Linked DNA regions of Homo sapiens. The protein of the gene in region 1 purifies or fractionates together with the protein of each later gene. This does not show direct contact. Each region holds a gene or a part of one and is shown on either strand. Other genes may lie near its edges.

Evidence for each region.
Region 2: the proteins of SLC6A8 (region 1) and OCIAD1 purify together in Homo sapiens (co-immunoprecipitation; 3 studies listed by BioGRID and IntAct, with this or other methods). This does not show direct contact.
Region 3: the proteins of SLC6A8 (region 1) and CHP1 purify together in Homo sapiens (affinity purification with mass spectrometry; 2 studies listed by BioGRID and IntAct, with this or other methods). This does not show direct contact.
Region 4: the proteins of SLC6A8 (region 1) and TRAM1 purify together in Homo sapiens (affinity purification with mass spectrometry; 2 studies listed by BioGRID and IntAct, with this or other methods). This does not show direct contact.

Annotation. Positions count from the first base shown.
Region 1 is NC_000023.11:153,690,922-153,697,111, reverse strand, and holds the end of SLC6A8 (sodium- and chloride-dependent creatine transporter 1), read right to left. Parts: intron 5,809-6,190; coding exon 5,559-5,808; intron 5,138-5,558; coding exon 5,005-5,137; intron 4,072-5,004; coding exon 3,937-4,071; intron 3,850-3,936; coding exon 3,746-3,849; intron 3,651-3,745; coding exon 3,526-3,650; intron 3,208-3,525; coding exon 3,095-3,207; intron 2,983-3,094; coding exon 2,845-2,982; intron 2,769-2,844; coding exon 2,666-2,768; intron 2,580-2,665; coding exon 2,479-2,579; intron 2,394-2,478; coding exon 2,223-2,393; intron 2,039-2,222; coding exon 1,898-2,038; 3' UTR 524-1,897; downstream 1-523. UniProt on the Homo sapiens protein: Creatine:sodium symporter which mediates the uptake of creatine. Plays an important role in supplying creatine to the brain via the blood-brain barrier.
Region 2 is NC_000004.12:48,848,073-48,855,099, reverse strand, and holds part of OCIAD1 (OCIA domain-containing protein 1), read right to left. Parts: intron 6,702-7,027; coding exon 6,654-6,701; intron 5,154-6,653; coding exon 5,018-5,153; intron 3,295-5,017; coding exon 3,125-3,294; coding exon of another isoform or gene 3,108-3,124; exon of another isoform or gene 2,875-3,107; intron 1-2,874. UniProt on the Homo sapiens protein: Maintains stem cell potency. Increases STAT3 phosphorylation and controls ERK phosphorylation. May act as a scaffold, increasing STAT3 recruitment onto endosomes. Involved in integrin-mediated cancer cell adhesion and colony formation in ovarian cancer.
Region 3 is NC_000015.10:41,255,253-41,262,279, forward strand, and holds part of CHP1 (calcineurin B homologous protein 1), read left to right. Parts: intron 1-1,447; exon of another isoform or gene 1,448-1,558; intron 1,559-1,657; coding exon 1,658-1,738; intron 1,739-7,027. UniProt on the Homo sapiens protein: Calcium-binding protein involved in different processes such as regulation of vesicular trafficking, plasma membrane Na(+)/H(+) exchanger and gene transcription. Involved in the constitutive exocytic membrane traffic.
Region 4 is NC_000008.11:70,605,406-70,612,720, forward strand, and holds the start of TRAM1 (translocating chain-associated membrane protein 1), read right to left. Parts: upstream 3,012-7,315; 5' UTR 2,795-3,011; coding exon 2,672-2,794; intron 2,265-2,671; exon of another isoform or gene 1,472-2,264; intron 1-1,471. UniProt on the Homo sapiens protein: Involved in the translocation of nascent protein chains into or through the endoplasmic reticulum (ER) membrane by facilitating the proper chain positioning at the SEC61 channel.

The DNA.
Region 1 (6,190 bases):
ATTCTCTCCTTGCCTCCCCATTGCAGGACCTGGCAGCTCCATCTTTCCTCTTGCTCAGGCCAAATCTGTTGTCCTTAACTCCTCTTTGAGCCCTGCATCCTGGTCATGCACAACCCCTATTGGCTCCACCTTCAAAATTGATCCCTGATGCAGAGTTATCCCCTCTGCTGCTACCAGCCTGGCCCAAGTGACACAAGGCACCTGTTCAGTGACAAATTCTTGGGGTAACATTTTGAAAATTTCAGCACCCATGGCTTTACGCCCACCCTTCCCCGCGGGTGTGGCTGCTCTCCAGCTCACTCTCGTCCTGCTCTCCCCAACTGCCTCGGCTCCAGGGGGACAAGGCCTTCCCCTGGGCTGCTGCCTTCCCTGCCCCCTTCCCAGTCCCCAGAAGGGTGCCGGCCGCAGAGGCCTCCAGAGCAGAGCCTTGCTCACGGCAGCAGCTCCAGCTGGAGGAGGTTCCCCCTGCCTCCTGTACCCCGACCCCTTCCTTAGAGCAGCAGAGGCGGAAGCAGGAGCCTGCTTTGGAAAATGACATGTTTTTATTGCTATGTCTGCAGTGGCTTTTTAGCACAGTAGAATGTCCCCGCAGGCCCGCCACCCTCACCCAGCCCCAGCCCTGCAGCCTCTGTCTGGGTGTCGGGGAAGCCTTTCTTGGGGTCACTCAGCCGTCTCGGGACTGGACGTGACAGACAAACGTGGGTTAAAGCTGCTACACAGAAGACTGGAGGTGCGGGAAGTGCATCCACCTTAAGCCTGGACGTGGGAGCCGTGTCCAGGGTCCCTTCCTGGGGGTGTGCCCCGCACAGGGTGGGAAGCCTGAGCAGGCCAGGTTAGCAGCCCAGACACCCAGGACGGAATATTGCAGCCTCTTGCCCCACAGACTTGTGGCAAAGGGACAGCGTGGGGACAGCCCCGAGGCCCCCACCATGCACTTTTCCAATCCAGTCTGGGGCTGGGGACCACACACGCACATCCACACAACAGACTCACACACGCAACAGCTCGAAGCTTTTGTTTTGCCTATGAAAGTTAGATCTATAAATTCACACTCCTTGGCTAGGGGCAGAGGGGTAAGGTAGGGCTCACAGGGATGGGAGTGGTAAGGAGAGGATGGTTTGGGCTCCTTCCTCTTTTTAGAAATATACAAGCAGAAATCTCATTCTCTCAAGTTTTTATAAAATGTGCAAAATACAAGCCTCCTTTGCCCAGAGGCGCCATTTACATCTGGCATTCACCTTTGCTAAGAGATAGAGATCTATATATACTCTCCGTACTCACGCACGCGTGCACTCGCACCCAAGCTCACACAATTGATACTGGTGGCGATTGGCGCAGGAACCAGAAGGTTCCATTGCTGGCTGGCTCTCTAAGCTTCTATAACAGGGATGGGGAGAGGGGTATAGCCCAGCTGAAATATTTGCCTTGGTTCTGCTGCCCCTCCCCTGCCTCCCTTCTCCTCTCTCTCCTCCCTCCCGTCTCTCCCTCCTTCCCTTCCTCACATTTCCCAAGCTGCCACTGCTGCTTCTGGGGTGAGGGGTCACCCACGGGTGTGCTGCAGAGCAGAGCCTGGAGAGGTGGGCAGGGGGTGGGCGTGGCAGGGGCAGGAGGAGTGCAGCACTGTGGGTGGGGGTGGGGCACTAGGCGGGGCCTAGGACCAGCTCGGCTAGGGCTGGAGGGGGAGAGGCATCTATTTTTGGTGGGTTGTGATATTTTTGGCGTTTTATTAAAAATGGAAAAAGTTGTTTTAGTGAGCACTCATGGTGCTTTCTCCCCTCCTCCCCCAGGCAGACCCCAAAAGTGTCAGGGAAAGGCAGGCCCCCTGGAGGGGTGCGGTGGGGCTGAAGCAGGGGCTGCTATGGCTACCAGAGGTGAGCTGGTGATGTGAGCTGAGTTGTCACATGACACTCTCCACCACGACGACCTTGCTGCTCTCGGACACTGGGGTCAGGGTGGTCAGGCCCCTGACATCTGCGTCCTGAGCTCGGTACTCCAAGTGGTGGAGGCCCCAGATGGGCTGGGTCAGGTGCTGCCAGCGCTGCAGGAGAGGAGGACATGCTGAAGCCCCCAGGGTCACCTGCTCGTCCCCACGGTGACTTCCTCTGCCTCTCTCCGGTTCCCACTGCCTGCCACCCTAGTCGGGGCCACTCCCTGGCTAGGAAGCAGGCTGGGTTGAATGTTCACAGCAGGGGAGGGGAGGGCGGGCCGGGCGGGAGCCTTACCTCAGCCATGGTGCCCTTGGCCCTGAGGAGGCAGCCCAGGAGGTGCAGCGGCACGCACAGCATGGAGGACAGGGCGAAGGCCCAGCCCATGGCCTCACCCCACCACGGGTACACGTAGGTGTTGTTGTAGACCAGCGGCTCGTAGTACACAACGTTGAAGATGAAGATGCCCTACGGACCAGAATGCTGCGGTTAATGGGGCCCCTACCCCGCCCTGCCTCGCCCCCCGCCCTGCCCCACCTCCCCCAGCCCTTACCATGCAGACCAGCGGGGTGAAGAAGGACCAGCACCATTTCATCCAGGGGCAAGGTCGGTACCCGATCATACAGGCAATGTCGTCCATGAAGCGGTCAGCTCCTGCGGCGAGGTGAGGCGGGAGGGCCAAGCTGGAGACCTGCCTTCCCCGCCACCATCCCCCAGCCCAGCCCTCAGCCATGACCTACCGTACACCCAGGCCACCACCACGCACTCCCAAAAGGCCTGCCAGAGCAGGGTGGTGCCGCTGGCCGAGTAGTAGTCAAACAGCTGGAAGACGTACATCCCGCCCTGGGGGACAGAGCCCAGTCAGGGAGGATGGCAGACGGCCACCAGAGGTCACAGGCAGACCCCCCACCCCACTCACATCAGTCACCATGGAGAGATCGATGACAAAGCAGAGGGCACAACAGAGGGCCACAGAGATCTCCCTTTGGAAACGGAAGTAGTAGGAGGCCGGGAGGAGGTCGAGGAGGCCGGTGATGAAGCCCTCCACACCTACAAACTGTGGCCAGGGCAGCTCAGGCCGAGCCCCGCACCGCCCTCCACCCCTTTCCTTGCCTGCAGCCCTCCCTCCGCCCCCCTCCTGGCTCCCTGTCCCAGAGCCCCATGCAAACCTGGCTGTCGAGACCAAGCAGCAACAGCATGAAGAAGAACAGGGCAGCCCAGAGTGGGGCCACTGGCATCAGCGTGACAGCCCGCGGGTAGGCGATGAAGGCCAGGCCCGGCCCTGTGGGAAAGGTGCAGGCTCTAGACCTTGTAGCCGATGTCCTGCCCTGTGCGCACCCTGAGCCCTGCCTGCAACACTCGCGCCCATGCCCACGCCTGCCTCAGAGGCGCTGTCAACCCTGGGTCGTGCGGCAGGGGCTGGGAGGTCCTTTCTCTGTCAACATTGACAAATCCCAGGACCTGCCCCCACAGGCCCACAATCTGACAAGTTCCGTTTGAATCCTCGTCACTTTTCAGCATTTCTATTGCATGTTCCTGTACATCATGCATCTGGGTAGCACTCGCTGCTCTGGAGGCGGGGCTGGGGGTAGGGCCCTACCTGACTCTGCCACCTTGGAGATGTGCACGCCCTGCTCTGCAGCCATGAAGCCCAGGATGGAGAAGACCACGAAGCCAGCAAAGAAGCTGGTCCCACTGTTGATGAGAGCCAGGATGATGGCGTCCCTGAGGGGTGGAGGGGCCAGAGTGGATGGGTTAGGCTGCTGGGCAGGGCGGGGCAGGGCAGGACAGGGCACGGGTGGCAGGGCGGCGGTGCTTACTTGTAGCAGTTGTTGTTGAAGCGGTTGTAGCTGCCCAGGGCTGTGAGGGCCCCCAGGCCAATGGCGTAAGAAAAGAAAATCTGGGTCCCCGCATCTATCCACACCTAGAGAAGGGCCGGAGAGCGCAGGCATGAGGGGCCTGCAGGGCTCCCCCGCAGCGCCCTGCTGCAGCCTCTCCACCTCCACCTCACCTGAGGGGACCCCAGCTTTGACCAGTCAGGCTTGAGATAGTAAATGATGCCATCCAGGGCGCCAGGCAGCAGCACTCCACGCACCAGCAGCACGACCAGGACCACGTAGGGGAATGTAGCAGTGAAGTACACGATCTGGGGGGCCAGGCTGCTCAGCGGAGGCTGTGGCACCACCTCCCTCACACCCCCACTCCCAGCGCCTCCGGTCCCCCTTGCGGGCAGGTATGTTCAGAGGTCCCCATTGTCCTCCGAGCCATGGCTCCCGCCAGAGGAAGCTAGGGGCAAGGCTGCGCCCCGGCAGCCCTGGCCAAGTGCAGTGGGGAAGCTCCCTGGGCGCCTCGTTTGTCTGCAGGGACGCGTGTCGGTGGGGAGCAGGCGAGCCTCTGGGAGCTCTCCTCAGTGGGGACAGGAGGCGTGGAGCACGTGGGGAGTGAGAGCTGTATGAGTGTGTGGGCAGTGCAGGTGTGGGAGGCCCAGGCAGGGAGCGGGATATTGGATCCGGGTCGGGTCCCCCTCCTCTTCTGGAGAGAGGTGGGGGTTGAGCAGGTGGAGAGTGGAACTGGGCCAGGCAGAGGCAGGCGAGATGCAGCTGCCACACTGTCTGCCCCCTCTTCCCACATGCTGCTCTGGGGACCTTGTCCCCCAGGGAGCTGGCCATGTCCCACAGCTCTAGACACTGTCTTCTTTGTTCAGGTGACTCCCCAGCCTGACCAGGAGCCCCCAAGGGATGTGGCCAGACTCTGCTCTGGGTCCCCAAGGCAAGATAGGTAACAGATGGCCAGACCAGGTCCACCAGACTGTCACAAGAGTCAGAGACTGGCAGGAGGGCACCAGTGGGGGTGATGGGCACAGGGAAGGGACAGTGCCTGCCAGGGCCTCTATCCCCAGGAGCAAAGGCTGCTGGGCCCTGGATTTGCAGGGTGGGGAGCATTGCTTGGCTTTCAGTACCTCCCCCTTCCTTAGGGCTAGACTCTGTCTGGTCACCTCCCGTTGCCACAGGTGTGCCTGGCACAGACATCCGGCTCCCAGGGCTGAGCCACCCTCCCCGCTGCATGCCTCTAGTGGTACCTTTCCCGTGGATTTGACCCCCTTCCAGACACAGAAGTAGACCAGCACCCAGCAGGCCAGCAGACAAAGGGTCACCTCCCAGTTGAGGGCCCCTGGCACCTCCAGTCCCCCAGACAGCCTCAAGACTTTGTTCCTAGGGGAGGGAGGGAGGTCCCATGAGGCCTGTGCCAGCAGAGGATGGAGCCACAGGGTCCACCCCCAGGAGTTGTGGCTCCCTTCTCTCCCACAGCCCAGGGTTCAGCGGGTCCCTCTTGTCCAATTGGGCTGGGCCTGGAGCCCACGATCCCCTGGCCATTGGGAGGCCACTCCCATCCCACCTCACATGCAGCCCCAGCTCCCCCATCAGGGGGGAGTGACCAGGACAGTGATCGGCTGCCGAACCCAGGAGCGAGGCTGGCCCCAGGACTCTCCGAGGACAGGCAAGGGCAGGCAGGGTCCAGGATGGACTGCCAGGCAACACCCTGGTGCCCCCTCAGGGCCACTCCCCTGGAGCCGGGCAACATGAGGGAGACCTGGGGGATGGGATGGGCTTGGCCCAGAGGTGCCGGACTCACTCCCAGAACTCGATGACAGGGGACCGGCGGTCAGCAAGCTGGTCACAGGTGAGGTTGGCCAGGCTGGCATTGGCACAGTCTTCATGGCGGAAGATCTCCACGCAGTCGGGAGTGTTCCAGGTGTGGCCACATGTGGCCCAGGGCAGCGTGGTGGTAAAGGACTTGACCAGGTAATAGAAGCCCCAGGCCAGCACCATGATGTAGTAGGTGTTGCAGTAGAAGACGATCACCATGGAGGCGTAGCCCAGGCCTGGGGCCGGGAAGTCCTTGCCATGTAGATTCTTCCCTGGCCACCTCCCCCTGCCACCCCTTTATGTCCCCACCCAGGCTGGCCGTGCTCCCACCATCTGTCCTCCTGGAGCCTTGTTTGTGGTGCTCCTGACTCCCCTGGGCTCCCCCTTGTGTGAGCCCCAACACTGCGCTGACTCCCCAGCCTGTCTCCTCTCCTCCAGCCGCCCCCTAGACCCAAGGCAGAGCGAGCCCCTCTCCTCCTGTCCCCATCTGACCAAGTGCTGTGGAGTCTCCAGCCTCATACACCTGGCCCCTTCTGTGGGTCCCACTGCCACCATGGCGGTTCCAGGAGGTCCAAGCCTCTGCCTGGCCACCCAGTAGCCTCCAGTCCTCAGCAGCTG
Region 2 (7,027 bases), on another chromosome or scaffold:
ATATTTTACCATTATAAAATTCTGGAACAAATAATGAAAATATACATCAGACAGAAGAAGACTGGGGAGAATTTCCCACACTATGGAGAGAACATGATTTACTATTTTGGGAAGGTTATAAAGAACTGGAAGGAATAAAAAAATGTAAAGTGGCACTGATTTAAATCTAACTGTAATAAACTCTAAGTCTCCTAACAGCTCTGAAGGAGTGCTTGCTATTTTAAAAGATTAATAACTCTCTGAATTCCTGGTAAAAGAAAGCAGAACTAAAGTAGGACTTAAACCAAAGAATAAGATGCCCTGGTAGGGGAGGATAGCATCTGGGGCAAAGCAAAAGCAGGCCACTGCTGGCCCATGTGGAGAGCAGTAAAAAAGTAGCCACTTTGATTTAGAGAAGGGGGTCAGAAGGCAGAGCAGTGGATGGATGGATGGCTGCTGTGGAAGGCATAAAATAATATTAAGACATGGCCTTGCTAAGTAGTCTGTGGGTAGATACCAAAGGGCTTTTTGTTTGTTGGCTTTTGTATGGAAAAAAACTATATAACAGAATTTCCTAATGCAAATGGTGGGGAAGATGCAAGTCATCACAAGGAAAGAGTTAGTGCATGTCTAGAATACAGTAGTGCCCCCTTATCTGTGGTTTCGCTTTCCAGGGTTTCAGTTACCTGCAGTCAACCATGGTCTGAAAATATTACATGGAACATTCCAGAAATAAACAGTTCATAAATTTTAAATTACACCCTGTTCTGAGTAGTGTGATAAAATCTTGTGAGGTTCTGCTCTGGTCCATCCAGGACTTGAATCATCCCTTTGTCCAGCATATCCACACTGTCTACACTACATGCCTGTTAGTAACTTAGTAGCCATCTAGATCAAAAAAACATAGAACATAAAGGATTTGGTAATATCTGAGGTTTCAGGCATCCACAGGGGTCTTCGAACTTATCCCCCATGGATAAGGGGGGACTACTGTACAAGAAGAATGGATTTGAACTTCAGACTGGTTAAATGAGACATAGTGAGGAACAAGGACAGCTGCCTTTGGAGATAAGATAGTGACTTTAGCCATTCTCTCCTAATCTGCCCATTCCCTTCCTTCCTTTTCTGACTAATTTGATGCCTTTGCTTCCAACCATTAAAGAAAAAAATAAAAAAATCAGAGTTGAGGATTAAGAAGCTCTCAATAACTTTCATCCAAATTCTTTAATCATCTGAACTTCCATTCTTTCCTGTCTCTTCCTTTATACAAGGCTAATACTCACCCCTTTGCCCCGACTTTTGCTCTTAAGTAGTGCTGTCCAACATAACTTTCTGCAATGATGAAAATGTTCTATATTGGCACTAACACGGTAGCCACTAGCACATGTGACTATTGAGCAAGTGAAATGCTACCAAAGCAATTGAGAAATTGAATTTTAAATTTCATTTAACTTTAATTAATTTAAATAGCCACATATGGCTAGCGGCTACTCTGACCTACCTAGAACCCCCTTCTGCATTCTCTAGAACCTTCTCTGACCTATAATCAACTTCTCCCTTTCCACTGTATACCCTCCCCTCCCTTTAACTTCTTTCCCTCTAATCTTTTAAAATTTAAAGAGTATACTCTACAAAGGTCCATAATCCCTTATCCAAACCTTGGGGTCAGGTATGTTTCACTATTCAAAGTTTCTGAGGTTTTAGAAAAATACTACAGTAAATACCCCTTATATTACTTAATATCCATCCATTCAGAGGTTTAGGACAGGAATGAGTAAGCAAACACATTAATATTTCTATAATGAAATAAAGGAAAAATCTTATCTGGCAAAGTAAATAAAGTCTACGTTTATATAACTTATGTGAATTTAGGTCAGGGTATTCTGCTAAATGAATTCAGGTCAGATTTTATTACCAGTTTAATTATTAAAAAACAAAAACAGGCCGGGGGCAGTGGCTCACACCTGTAATCCCAGCACTTTGGGAGGCCGAGGCGGGCGGATCACGAGGTCAGGAGATCAAGACCATCCTGGCCAACACAGTGAAACCCCATCTCTACTAAAAATACAAAAAATTAGCCGAGCGTGGTGGCGGGCACCTGCAGTCCCAGCTACTCAGGAGACTGAGGCAGAATGGCGTGAAGCTGGGGGGGCGGAGGTTGCAGTGAGCCGAGATCGCACCACTACAGTCCAGACTGGGCGACAGAGCAAGACTCCATCTCAAAAAAAAAAAAAAAAACAAAAAACAAAAAAAAACTTGGCTTAAACCTTTTTGAATTTCAGGATTTTAGATAAAGAATTACAGACCTGTATTTCCCGTTTCTAATTCCTCATCTTTTACTGCCGACTAGACTGAAGGAAAGAAACTAATGTTTTTTGAGTCTATTATTTGCCAGACATTGCCTCTGATTATTTCCTCTAATTCCAACAGTTCATTAAGAGAGGTAGTATCATCTCCATTCAACTGATCAAGAAACTGAAAGGATCATAAAGTAGTTATAATAATATTACTACATTATTATAATGTAGTAGTAGTATTACAAGGTCACATAGCTAGCAAATGTCAATCATGATTCAAATCCAAGCCTTAATACAAAATTGATGTTGTTGCACTTACATGTGTGATCTTCAAAGCTAGTATTTACAAACTTCACAAAGCATTTTCACATGGATTTTCTCACTTGACAACAGTTCTTTCTTGTATTACAGACAGGGAAGCTGAAAGCCTTTAAAACCCAGCCTATCAAATGTAACCTTTTTATACCTTTCCTGGAGCTCTACTTCCTGAGACACGATTTATCATTTCTTCTTCACTATTCCACTAAGCTTGCCTTAGTATTTTCAATTACTGGGACATACTAGTAATTCATCCTTGTATTTCTATATCTTCTAACAGACTGAAAGTTTTTCAGGGACAAGAACCAAGTGTTATTCATCTTCTTCCACGTCTAGCAGAGTCCTTGACACCTACTGGTCCTCAAGAAAAGTTGAATGAATGAAGAAACAAATGAACAAACATGCTGAGTTTAGGTTGATGATTGATGGTAGAACACACAGGTGATATCCAGCAGAAAAGGTCATCAAATAAAGTTTATACATACGTTGGACCATAAAATGTTGAAATTCATTTCAAGAGAAGTTTCTACCTTGGACAATATGATCAGTAATACCAGTGGGAGCAGATTCATTCATAGAAGAACTGAATGGAATTGGCTCATAATGAGGAAGCATTTCTATGTTGTCTGCTGCTGGGGATGTCACAAAAGATGATTGACCACTCACACTTGAGTCATATTTTGACTTTTGATAATAGTGCCTGTAAATGAAAATCATATTGTAGTAAGAAATATGAGTCATTGCCTATATCTTAAAGAAGTGTTAAAATAACTTCTTTCATATAGCTTATTTCCAAAATTATATATACATATAATTTTTTTTATTTTTTTGAGACAGGGTCTTGCTCTGTCACCCAGGCTATAGTGCAGTGACGCAGTCTTGGCTTATTGCAATCTCCACCTCCTAGGCTCAAGCAATCCTCCTACCCCTCAGCTTCCCAAGTAGCTGGGACTACAGGCATGCGCCACCACTTGGTTTTTTGTAGAGATGAGGTCTCACTATATTGCCCTGGCTGGTCTCAAACTACTGGGCTCAAGCAACCCTCCTGCCTCAGCTTCCCAAAGTGCTGGGATTACTGGCATGAGCCACCGCGTCTGGCCTCAAAATAATTTTTAACGCAGTTATTTATAATCAGTAAAATGAGGTCTGTTTCTTTCTGCCAACAAAACACTTTTAAAAAGTCCTGACCCACTTATACATCTTAAAAGCAGTCACTGTCAGTATAGAAAAATAGGAAATGTATACCCAGCCTTTCAAGATAATTTTAGTATGTTTGAAAGTTCTTGGAAAGAAAAAGCACTTTAAATCAGGTCTAATTTCAATAACCATGCCCGTTTCCCATGTCAATTGAGAAGGTAATATCACAGCTAAGAATCTATATAAACACTAATTTGCTAAAGCAGATACAAATTCTCTCTCATGGGGATTATATTGCTTGCCTATCTGTTTAAGAAGCATTAAAATGAAAAGCTGAAATCTGTTAAGAGATGGGATTGATAAGATTTGGGAATTCAAAAGAAAAGTCCAAACTATAGTAACCAAAGGTGTTTGCCAAATTGAATCGAGATAAAATCCTTTATTCTAGAACATGTACTCCCAATAGGACACAACTCTATATTTACAACAATGAAGGCCAGATGCAGTGGCTCACGCCTGTAATCCCAGCACTTTGGGAGGCCAAGTGGGGCAGATCACTTGAGCTCAGGAGTTTGAGACCAGCCTGGTAAACACAGTAAAACCCTGTCTCTTCAAAAAATACAAAAAATTAGCTAGGCGTGGTGGTGTATGCCTGTGGTCTCAGCTACTCCAGAGGCTGAGGGAGGAGGATCACTTGAGCCCAGGAGGCAGAGGTTGCAGTGAGCCGAGATCACGCCACTGTACTCCTAGCCTGGGAGCCAGAGTGAAACTCTGTCTCAAAACAAAACAAAACAAAAATGAAGAACCAGGCACAGTGGTTCACACCTGTAATCTCAACAATTTGGGAAGCCAAAGCAGGAGGACTGATTGAGCCCACTAGTTCAACACCAGCCTGGGCAACATAGTGAGACCCCCATCTCCATAAAAAAAATTTTTTTTTAATTAGCTGGGTGCAGTGGCTGACACCTGTATTCCTAGCTACTCAGAGAGCTTGAGGCAGTGGGGCCTTGTGAACCCAGGAGTTTGAGGCTGCAGTGAGCTAGGATCATGCCATTGTACTCCAGCCTGCGCAACAGAGGGAGATCCCATCATTCATTCATTCATTCATAAATAAATAAATGGTGGCAAGTCTTGCTCCAATTTTTGAAGCAAATTACTTTTAGCCTACAGCAAATGGCAAGTATCCAGTGGTCCTTCAGGCAATGTTTTTGAGCCATGAGTTATAGCAACATCTAGTTGTTTCTTAAAAATTAAAAATCTTAAGTAAAGATCAGAATCTGGCCTACCCAGGTGGTGAAGATCGTCGTGCTTGTCCTGATCGTAAAGCTTCTCCAAGGGGGGAATTTTCAAGTTTCTTGAATTTCTCTTGGCAAGTTTTCACATAAGAAAGTTTTCCAGCAAAGTATCCCATGATACAAGCAACTTATTTGTAAAATCAAACAAAAAGTGTAACTGAATGTGCCTTTCAGACAAAAGTATTTTCTAAAAGAAAAATTTGTTTTAAAGTGTGATTCTAAATAAGTCTTTGGTTTAGAAAGACTGAGATTTCCTGAAATAATGGTAGAAGAAATCAAAATTAAATCAGATCAGAGTTCATATACAGAGTCTATGGATATAATTCAGTTTCCAAAAAAAGTGTGCCAAAATAAAGCTGCTATAAATAAATCAATTATAGTATACTAATTACTTTATAATATATACAGGAAAGATTTAGTAAAGGTATAATGGGAAGAGGAATGGATAAGGAATAAAAGCATCAAAACATTTATTTATTTCTAGTTCTAAATAAACAGAACTAGATCACAAGGATTTAGGCCATTATTTTCCTATAAAACAGAATATCATATGCACAGCCATTTTCACAAGATTGTTTTAAAGTAAAATTAGGTGCAACAAATCCCTTAAAGTAATAAATTACGAACCATAACCTAAACGTGGCACTTACTGCATCACATGAGTTTCAAATAGAAAAGAAAGGCTAACCTGAAAGACTCATGAAAAGCCTCAGGTACTTCTTTTGAAGAGCAATGTAGCTTCTTTTTCTTTTATTTATTTATTTATTTACTTATTTTTTATTATACTTTAAGTTCTAGGGTACATGTGCATAATGTGCAGGTTTGTTACATATGTATACATGTGCCACGTTGGTGTGCTGCACCCATTAACTCGTCGTTTACATTAGGTATATCTCCTAATTCTATCCCTCCCCACTCCCGTCACCCCACAACAGGCCCCGGTGTGTGATGTTCCCCTTCCTGTGTCCACGTGTTCTCATTGTTCGATTCCCACCTATGAGTGAGAACATGCGGTGTTTGGTTTTCTGTCCTTGTGATAGTTTGCTGATAATAATGGTTCCCAGCTTCATCCATGTCCCTACAGAGGACATGAACTCATCCTTTTTTATGGCTGCATAGTATTCCATGGTGTATATGTGCCACATTTTCTTAATCCAGTCTATCATTGATGGGCAATGTAGCTTCTTTTTCTATTAACTATATTGCAATGTGTAAATAAGTTATGCTTATTTACATTTTAAAATACAAATTAGAGAGATTTCTTTTAAAAATTAAGCTTAATTTTAAATATACTTTATTTTGATTAATCAGAATATCTTCATAACTTTGTTTCCCCATAGACAGACCAAAAATTTATTTTCAAATACTTTATCCTTACAAAATAATTTTAAATTAATTGTTCTATTACATTATAAAGACACAAAAAAATGCCTATTTCAACTGATGATTTTTTATGCTAACAATAAAATATCCAAGTAATCCACTTAATGAAATGCTTTAACAAACTGATTTATCAGAGCATGTAACCACATAACTAATATGAGTAAGACATGATAAAACATTTGATAAAAATAATTTTATTTAAGTTTTAAAAAGCTATGAAAACTACAATGTTGTTCATACTTACGTATAAGTTTAGGGATGGAACCATATTTGGGATGACTTGAAAGTATTCCTAAAGAAAAGAGTTAAGTATTTCTGAGTAACACTGTTACAGAAAGAAAAATCAGTAAAGGCTATCTTTAAATATAATCTTACAACATTAGCTCCTTCCATGATCCTACAGAACCCTAGACTGTTTAATAGGGAAAACCAAATGAATTCAGTATCAAGAGAAATATGACGAAAATCCAAAAGACTCTACAAAGTATTAGAACAGGTAAATTTAGAAAGATCACTTGATGTAAGGTCAATAGACCAAATATATATGTGTGTGTGTATGAAAAACTGTTTATACCAACAACAAACAAAAAAACAAACATTTTTTAGAAGACAGAATTA
Region 3 (7,027 bases), on another chromosome or scaffold:
TCCTCTGCTTTTCTTTGTCCTCCATGACATTGATATTTTTGAAGACTGCAGCACAGATAAGTTGTAGACAGCTTTGTATTCTTGGCCCAGGAACCAACAAAAGAAAGTTTTTAAAAAATACTTATTGAAAAATTGGGGGACTGGGTGCGGTGGCTCACGCCTGTAATCCCAGGACTTTGGGAGGCTGAGGTGGGTGGATCACCTGAGGTCAGGAGTTCAAGACCAGCCTGGCCAATGTGGTAAAACCCCACCTCTACTAAAAATACAAAAATTGGCCGGGCATGGTAGCACCCGCTTGTAATGCTAGCTACTTGGGAGACTGAAGCAGTAGAATCGCTTGAACCCGGGAGGAGGAGGTTGCAGTGAACCCAGAGATCAAGCCACTACACTCCAGCCTGGGAGCGAAACTCCATCTCAAAAAAATAAAAATAAAGAATTTGGGGGAGAGTAACTTTCATTCAAAAGGTTCAATATTAGGGCTGGGCACCGTGGCTCACTCCTGTAATCCCACCCAGCACTTTGGGAGGCCGAGGCCGGCAGATCACCTGAGGTCAGGAGTTCAAGACCAGCCTGGCCAACATGGTGAAACTCCGTCTCTACTAAATGTACAAAAAACTAGCCAGGCGTGGTGGAGAGTGCCTGTAATCCCAGCTACTTGGGAGGCTGAGGCAGGAGAATCGCTTGAACCTGGGAAGTGGAGGTGGCAGTGAGCCAAGACCATGCCATTGCATTCCAGCCTGGGTGACTGAGCAAGACTCTGTCTCAAAAAAAAGTTCAATATAGGAAAGAAATATGGTTTTTAGAAAAAGAACACATACTTTGACTTACAGACTTAGATTTAAATCACAGTTCTGCTACTTAGGAGTAGTGTGGCTTTGGGCAAGTTACTTTATCTTCCTGACTCTCAATTTCCTCAGCTCTAAAAGGGTATACATAAAACATTGGCGTGAAGAAATGAGAATAATGTATGTAAACAGAGCAGCACATGATATATATGTGATGAATGGTAACTGACAATATTCGCTTTGGTATAACCTCGCCTAAGTCATGTGAGGATGACTGCTCTTGTCATGTTTGAGGGTTAAATACTTCTGTAGCCCTAGTCCACAGAACATGGAAATGGAGAAAAAGCCAGAGTCAGAACAAGGAAATCAATTGGTTGTCACATTATTTCCTTGCATGTAAATAGCACCTAAGAATTCCTTGCATTTTGTAAGTGCCTAAAAATCTTAACAAGGATATGGAGACCCCTCTAAGTGTTTGTCCCCATATTCAAGTTCTGCAGTATTTGATACTTTCCATTTGCTGTTCACTTTCCAAACTTAATAACTAGGTACGCAATGCTAATGTTCAAGAAATCATTTACTAAGGGACAGCTTAGTATTTGTCCATCAGTTGGCTTATTGACGTAACCTGTGTGCTAAATTCACTGGAATGTGGCGTAATCAAATCTGGCTCCTTCCACTTCTGAGTTGGTGCAAGAAACACTTGGCAGCTATTAAAGTGCTATTCTTTGCAGTTATTTGGTATAATTTGCCACAGAAGTAAATTCCAGGAGGTAATATTCTTGCTAGGTTACACCCTGTTACCTCCTGACTTAAGGAGTTCATGCTAAGGGCAATGATCTCTATCTAACTCAAGGTGATTCTCTTGGCAGCCGGGAAGATTTCCAGAGGATTCCAGAACTTGCCATCAACCCACTGGGGGACCGGATCATCAATGCCTTCTTTCCAGAGGGGTGAGTCAGTACAGTTGTTGGACTTCCTTCCTGAGGCTATCACAACCTAAATTATTTGCTAATCTGGAATAATGATATTGGTTGTGCCATCTCAGACTGTGATACCCCCTGATTATATTGAGCAATTCTAATTTTGTCATTTCTAGAATATCTCTTCTGTTCTACCCTCCTGTGTGTTTTAAACTTCAAATAGATATATGAGCCTATCTTCAAAATTCTTATGTTTATCATTGATGTAAAACTAGACTTTTAAAAAATGTTTATTTGGAAATAATTTCAAATTTACAAAAAAGTTGCAAAAGTTAAAAGTAATTCGGAGAATACTTGTATATTTATTGCCCTGATGCATCTACTGTTATATTGTTAACATTTTGCCTCATTTGTGTGCTCTCTTCTTAGTAGTAGCCAATAAAAATATAATGCAAGCCACATACGTAATTTTACATTTTCTAGTAACCACATTTAAAAAGTAAAAATAAGTTAACTTTGGTAATATATATTTTATTTAATATATTTAAAATATTATTTCCATATATAATCAATATTAAAAATAACTGAGATCCTTTTTTCGTTTGTTTGTTTGTTTTAAGACAGAGTCTTGCTCGGTCGCTCAGGCTGGAGTACAGTGGTGCCATCTCGGCTCACTGCAACCTCTGCCTCCCGGGTTCAAGCGATTCTCCTGCCTCAGCCTCCGAGATAGTTGGGATTACAGCCACATGCCACCATACCTGGCTAATTTTTGTATTTTTAGTAGAGACAGGGTTTCACCATGTTGGCCAGGCTGGTCTTGAGCTCCTGACCTCAGGTGATCCGCCTGCCTCAGCCTCCCAAAGTACTGGGATTACTGGCGTGAGCCACCATGCCCAGCCTACATTTTTTCATAATAAGTCCTTGAAATCCAGTGTGTAATTTACACTTAAACACATATCAAGTCAGACTGACCATGTTTTCAGTGCACATAACCAGATGTGACAAGTGACTGCAGTATTGAACAGCGCAGCTTGTACACCCGTGCTTACTCTACATACCCTCTCTTGCAGACACTTTTTCCCTCTCTCTTTCCCCTCTCTCTACCTACACATACTCTACGTGTGTGTGTATATACATACATACATGCCTACATGTACGTACATACATACACATACATACATGTATGTATATACACATACTTATGTAATTTTTTTGTGTATGTGTGTTCACATAATTGTATTTCTGAACTATTTCAGGGTAAGTTGCATAGTAATGACCCTTTACCTCTGAATGCACCAGTGTGTGTTTGCTAAGAATAGGGACATTCTTTTACATATCCATAGTATAGTTATCTACTTCAGTAAACTTAACATTGATACAATCCTCTTATCTAATCTATTACTCTGTTTTATTAACATATTATCCAGTTTATTCTAATTTATATTCATATTCCAATTTTGTCATCCAATAATCTGTTTTATAGCACTTCCCCGCCTCCAGTACAGGATCTAGTCTGGGTCAGTTGTCATGTCTCTTTAGCCTCCTTTAATCTGGAACATTTCCCCAGCCTTTATTTTACTTTCGTGATATTGAATAAACATAGTTCTCACCACATATGCTTTGTCAAGTAGATTGTTCTTAATGTGGGTTTTTCTAACATGAAACTAGTCTTTTGATATGCTTTACTACCTAATACACTGCCTTCACAGTAGTGAGTAAATATTTACTGATTTGATTAGGTACCTTTTCAACAATAAAACTTACATATAAGCTTGTTTTAAGTAATTTCCTAAACAATCTATTCCTGGTTTATATGGATAGTCTATGACCCACAGGACTTCAAAATATTATATGGGTGCCAGTTTTTAATAATGAGACTGTCAATGAGGACACTGTCAGATAAAATGCCTGGAGAGGAAATTTTAGAACTCTAAATTGAGAGCAAAGGAATTTGCTAGTTGAGAGGGTTGGGCATTCAGGAAATGTGAGTGAAAGTCAGAAGGGGAATTAGGTCGGGCAGTTAGTTCATGTAAAGATGGGAATCAAATCACGTTGACTATGAGGAATCTTATGCCCTCTTTCATTTTTTCCTTTCTCTCTCCTTGAACTGCCCTGTTTGTTTCAGGTGTGGTTTTTATGCTGAATTCTTCCTTTTTTCTAATTCCTCTTTTACCCCTGCAAAGCATTGAACCCTATCCAGAGATAACTTTCACAGCTATGCTTTGTATCCAAACCTTTTGCAATGAAAAGTAAACCCAGGAGAGTCACTTTGCCAACTTTTTTTCAGAATTCCTTAGTCACCATTGATTACTTGAAGAAGCAGCTTGTGGGAAGCTGTTTTGTAAGACTAAACTACATTTGCTGTGACTACAATATCACCTGTCATTCTGTCCACCAATCTACTGCTAAGGAAATGGGACAGAGTGCATATGAGGAAGTGGAGGGCTCTACTGGGCTGCACTGCTTAGCTCTTAGCAAGCTGCGACTCTGCTTCTTGCTCTAATCAGATAGATATATTTGGCTTCTGGGTTTTTCTTTCTTCCCTAGGCATATGCACATTGGGGCTTTTTTTTTTTTTTTTTTAAAGAATGAGATTTGAAAGTGGACCATGGTTATTCAATTCCCTTTTACCCAGAAACTTTATGCTAGCAATAATCATTAATGTGTTTTTTCTAGCATATGTTTTAAACTTTACTCCACATTACTTGATTCCTCAGATCTGACATTTTTGACCAGATACTGGTCCATTAGCAGTATAGATACATCGAAGAACTAAAAGGTCATTCTTTTGTTTTGTTTTTTGTTTTTTTGAGACGGAGTCTCCCTCTGTCTCCCAGGCTGGCATGCAGTGGTGTGATCTTGGCTCACCGCAACCTCTGCCTCCTGGGTTCGAGTGATTCTCCTGCCTCAGCCTCCCCAAGTAGCTGGGACTACAGGCTCACGCCACCACGCCTGGCTAAGGTTTCACCACGTTGGCCAGGCTGGTTTTGAACTCTTGACCTCAGGTGATCCGCCCGCCCCGGCCTCCCAGAGTGCTGGGATTATGGGCGTGAGCCACTGCACCCAGCCAAGGTCATTCTTTTGAGTACAGATGGCTCACAGGCTAGCCTTTGAACTCTGCCTTTAGAAGGGCTATGAACTGCATGTCTATAGAGCACAGAAGAGAACCTACATACCTCAGCTATTCGGTGGGGCACAGAAAGGCTGGGGTTTTTTTTTTTTTTAGGTAACCACAGGAACCAGGCCATCTGCCTTAGATAAATAAATTATATTATGTTACATGGGGCATTCTTTTTTAATATTAAAGAACATTCTTCATTCAAGTTTTGAGAATTATTTCTTACAGGGTTATTGATTAGCCTGTGGCACAATGAAAAGATTTTCTCCAAGCTTAAGTACCAAAAAGGCTTTATACACAAGAGGTCTTTCAAAACTTTTTTTTTTTTTTTTTTGAGATGGAGTCTCCCTCTGTCACCCAGGCTGGAGTGCAGTGGTGCAGTCTCGACTCATTGCACCCTCCATCTTTGGGGTTCAAGTGATTCTCCTGCCTCAGGCTCTCAAGTAGCTGGGATTACAGGCATGCACCACCAGGCCCAGCTAATTTTTGTATTTTTAGTAGAGACGGGGTTTCACCATGTTGGCCAGGCTGGTCTTGAACTCCTGACCTCAGGTGATCCACCCACCTTGGCCTCTTGAAGTGCTGGGATTATAGACGTGAGCCACTGTGCCTGGCCTAAAAGATTATTTAGAGAAAAATTATCCAATTATGAGGGAATAATAAAATCATGATGTGTCCACAGAATTATGCATATGTTTTAAATGTTTCAAAGTATTTATATTGATTGGAGAAATGCTTAAAAGTTAAAAAAAAAGGCAGGATACTAATACAGTTATCTGAAAAGCATAGAAAAGTTACTAGAAGAAAATGCATTCATATATATATGAGGGAGTCTTGCACCGTCACCTGGGCTGGAGTGCAGTGGCGCAGTCTCGGCTCACGCAACTTCTGCCTCCTGTGTGTTCAAGTGATTCTCCCACCTCAGCCTCCCAAATAACTGGCAGTATAAGCGTGAGCCACCATGCCTGGCTGATTGATTGATTGATTAATTGATTGATTCCTTCCTTCCTTCCTTTCCTCCCTCCCTTCCTTCCTTTTCCTTTCCTTTTCCTTCCTTTTCCTTTCCTTTCCCTTTCCTTTCCTTTTCTTTTTTTTTGACATAGTCTTGCTGTGTCACCCAGGCTGGAGTGCAGTGGTGCAATCTAGGCTCACTGCAGCCTCTGCCTCCCAGTTTCAAGCGATTCTCCTGCCTCACCCTCCCGAGTAGCTGGGATTACAGGTGCCCACTACCACGTCCAGCTAATTTTTTTGTATTTTTAGTAGAGACAGGGTTTTACCATGTTGGTCAGGCTGGTCTCAACTCCTGGCCTCAAGTGATCTGCCTGCCTCAGCCTCCCAAAGTATTAGGATGATGGGCATGGACCACCGTGCCCAGCCAGAAAATATATTTATATTAACTGTGGTTGTAATTGGTAGAACTCGGATCAGTATTTTTCTATCTACTTTTCTTTTTTCCACATTTTCAAATTTATGTTTGCTTTTATAATTAAATAAACTTGGCTGGGCATGGTGGCTCATGCCTGTAATCCCAGCACTTTGGGAGGCCGAGGTGGGCAGATCATGAGGTCAGGAGATTGAGACGATCCTAGCTAACACGGTGAAACCCTGTCTGTACTAAAAATACAAAAAATTAGGCTGGGTGCAGCAGCTCACACCTGTAATCCCACCACTTGGGAGGCTGAGGCGGGCAGATCACCTGAGGTCGGGAGTTCGAGACTAGCCTGACCAACATGGAGAAACCCCGTCTCTACTAAAAATATAAAATTAGCTGAGCGTGGTGGCGCATGCCTGTAATCCCAGCTACTCCAGAGGCTGGGGCAGGAGAATCGCTTGAACCAGGGAGGCGGAGGTTGCAGTGAGCTGAGATCGCGCCATTGCATTCCAGCCTGGGCAACAAGAGCAAAACTCCATCTCAAAAAAAAAAAAAAAAAATACAAAAAATTAGCCGGGCATGGTGGCGGGCGTCTGTAGTTCCAGCTAGTCAGGAGGCTAAGGCAGGAGAATTGCTTGAACCCGGGAGGCGGAGGTTGCAGTGAGCCGAGGTAGTGCCACTGCATTCCAGCCTGGATGCAAGACTCTGTCTCAAAATAAATAAATAAAGCAAGACTTTATTTATTTATAAGCAGAGCAAGACTCTGTCTCAAAATAAATAAATAAATAAGAAAAATTAAAAATTAAATAAACTTTATTTTAAAAGCGGC
Region 4 (7,315 bases), on another chromosome or scaffold:
TGTATCTCCATTGCTTCTTCATTTTGGCTAGTAATACAGTATTTCTTTCTTTCTGAATTTCTTTGTCAATGTCACCATAAATCCTCTGACATTTCCTCAATGTATCTGCACAACAGGCTTAACAGTTCTGCAAAAAAAAATCAATTTCTCTATTATTCTAGCACAAGTACTGTAATTCTATAATTATGTTAACTTTGAGATTCAGCAGCAATTGTTTTAAAAGTCGAATAGCAAAACTAACCTAGTCTACAAAGTCCTATATATAGATAACATGCTTTGAAATCCTAACACCTTAATATATGGTAAGAAAAAGGAAGAACTCGCACAAACTTCACTTTTGTGTATCACTTTAACACTCACTTTTGAATTGACTTAAAAACCTCTATTTAGTATTTTTGTCTATTTAGATTTTCAAATTTTATAAATTTATATAAAGGTGAAAATCCACTGTTTAAAAAAATCACTAACATGTGAGGCAAGGTATAGGTGGTGGACTTCCCTAGAAATATAGTAAGAGAATGTAAAATAGTTTATATAAAATCAAAGTTATACTATGTGTCAGAATTTCTGATTTATATTTCATTTCATTCAAAGCACTGCAAATATACCTTGCAGGTCACAGTACCCCTAAAATATGTTTTTAAAGTCAGGAATTCTTACCATGTGGAGATGGTTTATGACAAGTTACAGAAAATTGAATATACTACATATATTAAAGTACTACTTTAAGGTCAAAGCAGAAAGTACATGCAAGTATCAAATTCAGAAAGTGAATACAAATGTTTAACATTGGGTTTTTTTTGAGACAGGGTCTTCTTGCTCTGTCCTTCAGGCTGGAGTGCAGTGGTGAAACCTTGGCTCACCGCAGCCTCCACCTCCTGGGCTCAAGTAATTATCCCACCTCAGCCGCCCAGCTGAGACCACAGGTGCGTGCTATCTATCACTCCTGGCTAATTTTTAAAAAATCATTTGTAGAGACAGGGTCTCCCTATGTTGCCTAGGCTGGTCTCGAACTCCTGGGCTCCAGTGATTCTCCTGCCTTGGCCTCCCAAAGTGTTGGGATGTTTACAGGCATAAGCCAGAGCACCAGGCCTAGCACTGTATTTACCTTCACACCATATCATCTGATACTTGCAAAAAATGGCTGTGAGGAGAACAGTACAGGTGATATTATTTCCTGATAAAGAGCAGAAAAATTGAGGCTCAGACTTGGGTCACCCAGTAGGTAGGTGGCACAGCCCAGACTTAAAGCTTGAGAATGTTAGTTTCCTTCTACCTACCCTTTAACTATACCTGCTACCTCCTTAGCAGTGGTTTCAAACATGCATGACACAATCAGGAGTAAATAATATCTGTATCTAGATCCAGAAAAGCCCATTTGATGAGAGGCGAAAATAAGGTTAAAATATTATTTAATTTTAAAATTAAAAAAAAAAACAAATATGCTCCATTAAAAAGAAAATGTATTCACCTTTTGGTCACTGGTAATATCATTCCATTAGGTTTTCTCAAGGATTCTTAACGTCGCTCATCTTTTTTTAAGCACTCCTATGTCCCAGGCACTATCCTAGACTCTGGAAATACAGACTCGTAAAAATACTCCAAAATCTCTACTCTCACTTGTTACATGCAGGAGAGAGGAGACAAAACAAGGCAGGAGCAAAATAATTTGTATATTTACTGAGACATAAAGGCTCCAGAGAAAAATTAAAAAGGGAAAAAAGCAAAGGAATGAGCGTGTGTATTGGGGAGCGAGGGGAAAAACGTAGGATGTTACTCGTTCACCTTGCAAAGTTTATCATCCACATTCAACAGCTGTTAAATAAGTCATCAAAATACTAGATACGTGGGAAGAGAATTTACACACTCCTGACATTCCCATCCTCTCCTACTTCAAGAAACAAAATTACTCGATTCCTTGGCACCGCTGTTCAGAACCTCGATTTATCCATCAGACCTTGTTTCTTTAAAGCGTCAGGGCAAAAAGTTCGTTAACTGGTAATAATATCAGTTTAAAAGACAAAAATGAAAACAATCTGGCGCGCCTCCACTGCGCCGGTGCCCGGCGGCCACCGCCCTTCAAGTCGAAAGCAGATGCCTGACTCCGGTTTCTCGCTCACCCCAATCTCGGAGCTACCGGGGGCTCCCCTGTCACTCGGGGCCTGTGGTCTCCAGGCCGGCACTCCTCAGACCCGGGGGCCGGGCCTCGGCCTTCCCCGGCCCTCGCGGGGCTGACGCTCACCGCGGCCGAGGCTGGCAGTCCCCCCAAGTCCGCCCACCCGCCCCGAGCCAGCTCGGCAGCGCAGGGGCCGCCCCCGCCCGCAGGCCCCTCGCCGGCTGCCACGTAACCCTTCGCGGGAACCAGGAACTGCGCCGCGCAGCCTGCGGGAGGGGGCGGCGGCGGGTCAGGAAGGGGGCGACGCGGCGGTCCCCACCCCCTGCGGGCCGCGATGAGGCCCACCGGGACTTTGCATCTCCGGGCCGGCCGCCGGGGAGCTGCCGCCGACGTGGGGCAGGGCAGGGAAGGCCTGCACCTCAGGGACTGGGGGTCTGCACCCACCCCGGGCCCGAGCCCCCCGCGTCCTGGGCGGAGAAGCCGGGGCTGGCATCTGGAGCCCGGGCCCGGGCTGGAGGTGGCGGGGCAGGCGGTTGGGACTCGGGGCGGGCTCACCTCAAACATGAGCCCCAGCAGGAAGACCATCGCCACACAGGAGACGATGTCCGCGTGATTCTGCAGGACGAATTCGTGGCTCAGCACTGGGGGGCTCTTGGTGCTTTTCTTGCGAATCGCCATGGTGGGGCCGCCGCCCGCGCCTGCAGGTGCTCCGCCCCGGTTCTGCTCTTCCCAGCTGCTCACCGACTCGCCGCCGCCTCCCGCTGGCTGCTCCTCACGGCCCCGCTGCAGCCGCTCGCTGGGGCTTCACTTCCCATCCCACAGCCAGTACGCAGCCGCCGGGCCGCCCGGGGGAAAAAAAAAAACACAACAGCTAGCCCGCAGCGGGGGCGAGCATGCGCACCAGGGAGACGACGCTCCCTGGTGCCGCGGCCGCCTCCGCGAGCCCACAGCGCCACCTGGGGACCGGAGGCCGCTGGCCCGCGGCCGGGCGAGCGTGCAGGAATGTGAGCGGCGCTTCCCTGCTTCGCGCCGGGCCCGGGTTTGGGAGTCGTTTGAGGCGCGAGCTTCCTGCGCCTGCTCAGCAGCCTGAGGCCGCGGCCGGGTGCCCTCCTGCCCTCCTGGCCATCCAGGGATTGGGTGTCAGTGGCCTGTTGCACATTGTCACTTCTACAAGTGACTAACACCGTCAGGATAATCTAAAACTACGAATACTACCTGACTCCACAAGGGTACGGTGTATTCTCCAGTTTTAGCATCTGCCTTAAAAATTACCTCAGAGTTAAGCACTGCTGGGGACTTATTTCTACTCTTGGTAAGTTTGGACTAACTTAAAAAAAAAAAAAGAGCTGACCCTATTCTGGTCTGCCTCTCCGTCCCCACCCCCATCCCCGTCCCCATCCCCACCCCTATCCCCCACTGGCCTCAGACTGAAGACGAAGGGATCAGTTTGGGTTTACTGGCTTCACATATATTCAAATTAACAACATGTTTTAGTAATCTAAGGGAAATAGTAAAAGAGTTAAAAAGGATCGTGGATTAAGACACGTCCTCCTCTTATCGTTTTGCCCAAACCTGGAGTCCTTTGTATTCTTTTTCCTGAAGAATTGCTCTCCTGTTTACCCATAAGCCAAATGTAGAAACCAAAGTCATGCTAGATTGAGCCCTTTCAGCGCCCTTCCACATCCAGTCATCACCAATTCGAGGCAGACCTATCACCCCGCTTCCCCACTACCGCAGTCCGAGGGTACTTGCCTCTTGCCTACAATATTACAACTCTGGTGTAACCACTTAGTGGTTTAAGAATGTGGGTTGTTAAATCAGAATTCTGCCACTTATTACTTGTACGATCAAGGACAAGTTACTTAATCTCTATGGGACCCGATTTCCTCATTTTTAAAAATGTATTCATTTATGTACTTACTGAGGGTTGACTGTGTCCTGGGCACTGGGGATACAGAACTGAAATACAAATTAAATTATTCCTAGGGACTTATCATTCTAGTGTGGGAGAGAATCTTTAAACAAGATTTCAAAAGCGAAACAGATGTTAAATTGAGTTGAGCAACCAGGAGAAAAATAAAGCAAGGGGAATAGGAAAGTGCGAGGCACTTATACTTGCCTGAAGACCTGCAGGAGGTGAGGGAGCAAGCCCTGTGGATATCATCTATAAAGTGGGGATAACTATTGCTCATTTTAGTGATTAAATGAGATGATTGAAGGAAACTGCTTAGCGGGGAGTAAGGGCTTTATAAATTTAGTCAGGGATTATTCTTTTCCTCCTTCTGGGCAATCACTAGTTTCATTTCCCTTCAGATCACCTTTCAACGTTTATACTAGAATGATGCTTCTACTGGCAGAAAGTTTTTCAGCGGGTTCCCTTTCCCTTCATGGAAAGCTAGCATGATGAAATAGCCCTTTCTGATTTGGTCCTTGCCTACCCCAACAGACTGGAGCCCTGCATCTACAGGCCATAATCTCTGTACCAGCATTATTGACTACACACACTATACAGTTGCCTCTCCATATCTGTGGGTGCCGCATACACTGTGGATTCAACCAACCTGGAGTAAAAGATATTCAAGAAAAAAACTGCATTTGTACTGAACATCTACAGACTACCCCCCCATGATTATTCCCTAAATAATATAGTACAGCCAACTATTTATTTAGCAGTTATGTTGTGTTATTATAAGTAATCTAGAAATGATTGGAGGTCTGTGGGAGGATTTAGGATATTCTTTACCAGAATATTGCATCATCTTATATAAGGCACCTGAGCATGGGTGGATTTCGGTATCCGCGGGGGCCCTGGAACCAGTCCCCTGTGAAGACTGAGGGACGACTGTACATGCCATGACATGCTCTCTTCCCATGCTCTCCCCTGCCTTTGCGTGTACTGCTGTCTCTGTCTGGAATGTTTTCTCCTGTCCTTTCATAGACACAGCAGGCTCCTGCTGTTCCTTCATGTCTCATTTACACATGACCTCTTCGAAAGCTTCACTGAATTCTGTGACCTAAGCAATTTATCTTTTATGATTCAATTGCATTTTTGAAATAGTTTTATTGCAGTATAATTTATGTCATATAGTTCAGCTATTTGAGATATTCAATTCTGTGGTTTTTAGTATGTTTGCAAAGTTGTGCAACAATCACCATAATATAACTTTAGAACATTCTTGTAATCTCTAAAAGAAACCTTATACACATTACCAGTAACTCTCCATTTCCCCTCATAGTCTTGGCAGCCCTTGGCAACAACTGACCTATTTTCTACCTCTCTATATTTGCTTATTGTGGACATTTCTTTTTGTTCTTTCTTTGTTTCTTTTCTTTCTTTTTTTGAGATGGGGTCTTGCTCTGTTGCCTAGGCTGGTGTACAGTGGCATGATCATAGCTCACTGCAACCTTGGACTCCTGGCCTCAAGAAATTCTCCCACCTCCCAAAGTGCTGGGATTACAGGTGTGAACCACCATGGCCAGCTTGGACATTACATGTAAATAGAATCATGATCTTTTGTGACTGACTTCTTTCACTGAAGATAATGTTTCCAAGGTTCATCGATGTTGTAACATGTATCAGTACTTCACTCCTTTTTATGGCCAAATAATATTCCATTGTATGGCTATAGCACATCTTATTCATCAGTTGATGAACATTTGTGTACAAGTTTTTGTTTGAACTCAATTCCTTTGGGTATATACCTAGCAGTGGAATTGCTGATCATAAGGCAACTTTATGTTTGACGTTTTGAGGAACTCTCACACTAATTTCCAAAGTGAATGCACTATTTCCCATCCTATTAGCAATGTGTAGAGGTTCCAATTTCTTCCCATCCTTGCCAATACTTTTATTTTCTGTCTTTTAATCTTATCTGTCCTAGTGGGTGTGAAGTAATATCTCATTGTGATTTTGCTTTGCATTTCCCTGAGCACTAATGATATTGACTACTAGCCTTATCAGGTGCTCAGAAGCCATCTGTATATCTTTTTTTGTAGAAATGTCTATTCAAATCCTTTATCATTTCTAAGTTGGATTAATTTTTTAAAGTTTATTGAGTTGTAAGGGTTTAAAAATATCTATTCTATATGTCCATGTTGTTCTGTAATTTATTTTAAAAAATAAAAGATAGATTCTAGATCTTAGCAGATATATGATTTGAAAATATTTTCTTTCAGTCTGTCTTTTTACTTTCTTGATGGTTTTCTTTGAAGCACAAAAGTTTTTAATTCAGCAAAGTCCAACTTACCTGTTTTCTCTTTAATCACTTGCTATTGTTGTCCTATATAAGAAATCAGTGCCTAACCCAAGATTCCAAAGATTTACTCCTGTGTTTTCTTCTAAGAGTTTTATGGTTTTAGCTCTTACACTTGGGTCTATGAGGACTCACTTGTATTTTGTACATAATTTCATTTTAGCAATAATCATACTATCTTCTATTGTTTGCAAGTCTGTCTTCCCACTAGACTGGTACTCCTCAGGAACTGGGAGTTGTTTCATTTTTCCAGCTCCTACTACCTGGTGCTATACTGTCAAATATTTAGTGGTCATTATTTATTGAGGGAATGAAAAGAAAAAATACCTCACATAAATGAGAATAAAACCTTAAGATAGTTTAACCAAGAAACAAACATAAAAATGATATATGGCTCTACAAAGTTACTCATTTTAAATATATTTAAAGAAGACTTGCAATGCACCAAGCAAGTCCTGAGTTGTAGGATATAATTATTAACAAGACAGATTTAGTCTTTGTTCTTGAAACGCATACCTGGAATAGAAGACAGACAGTAAACAATGACCAATGTGATGGATATTTACAAAGAGACAGTGCAAGGTGCAGTAGAAGTGTTCTAGGTCATTTGGAAATGAATTGCTCTACTAATGTCAGTTTTTAAACTGAAATTGGTCCTTTCAAACCTTAGAATCTGGTGATTTTTCACTCCTTTGTGAGAAGACCACATTGGTCTTCTTTCAGCTGCTTAAACATATCATACTCTGGCCAGCCATAGGACTTGAGATGACCATTGGGTTTTTGTTGTTGTTGTTTGTTTGTTTGTTTTTGAGATGGAATCTCGCTCTGTTGCCCAGGCTGGAGTGCAGTGGCACGATCTCAGCTCACTGCAACCTCTGCCTCCCAGGTTCAAGTGATTCTCCTGCCTCAACCTCCTGAGTAGCTGGGATTACAGGCACGTGCCACC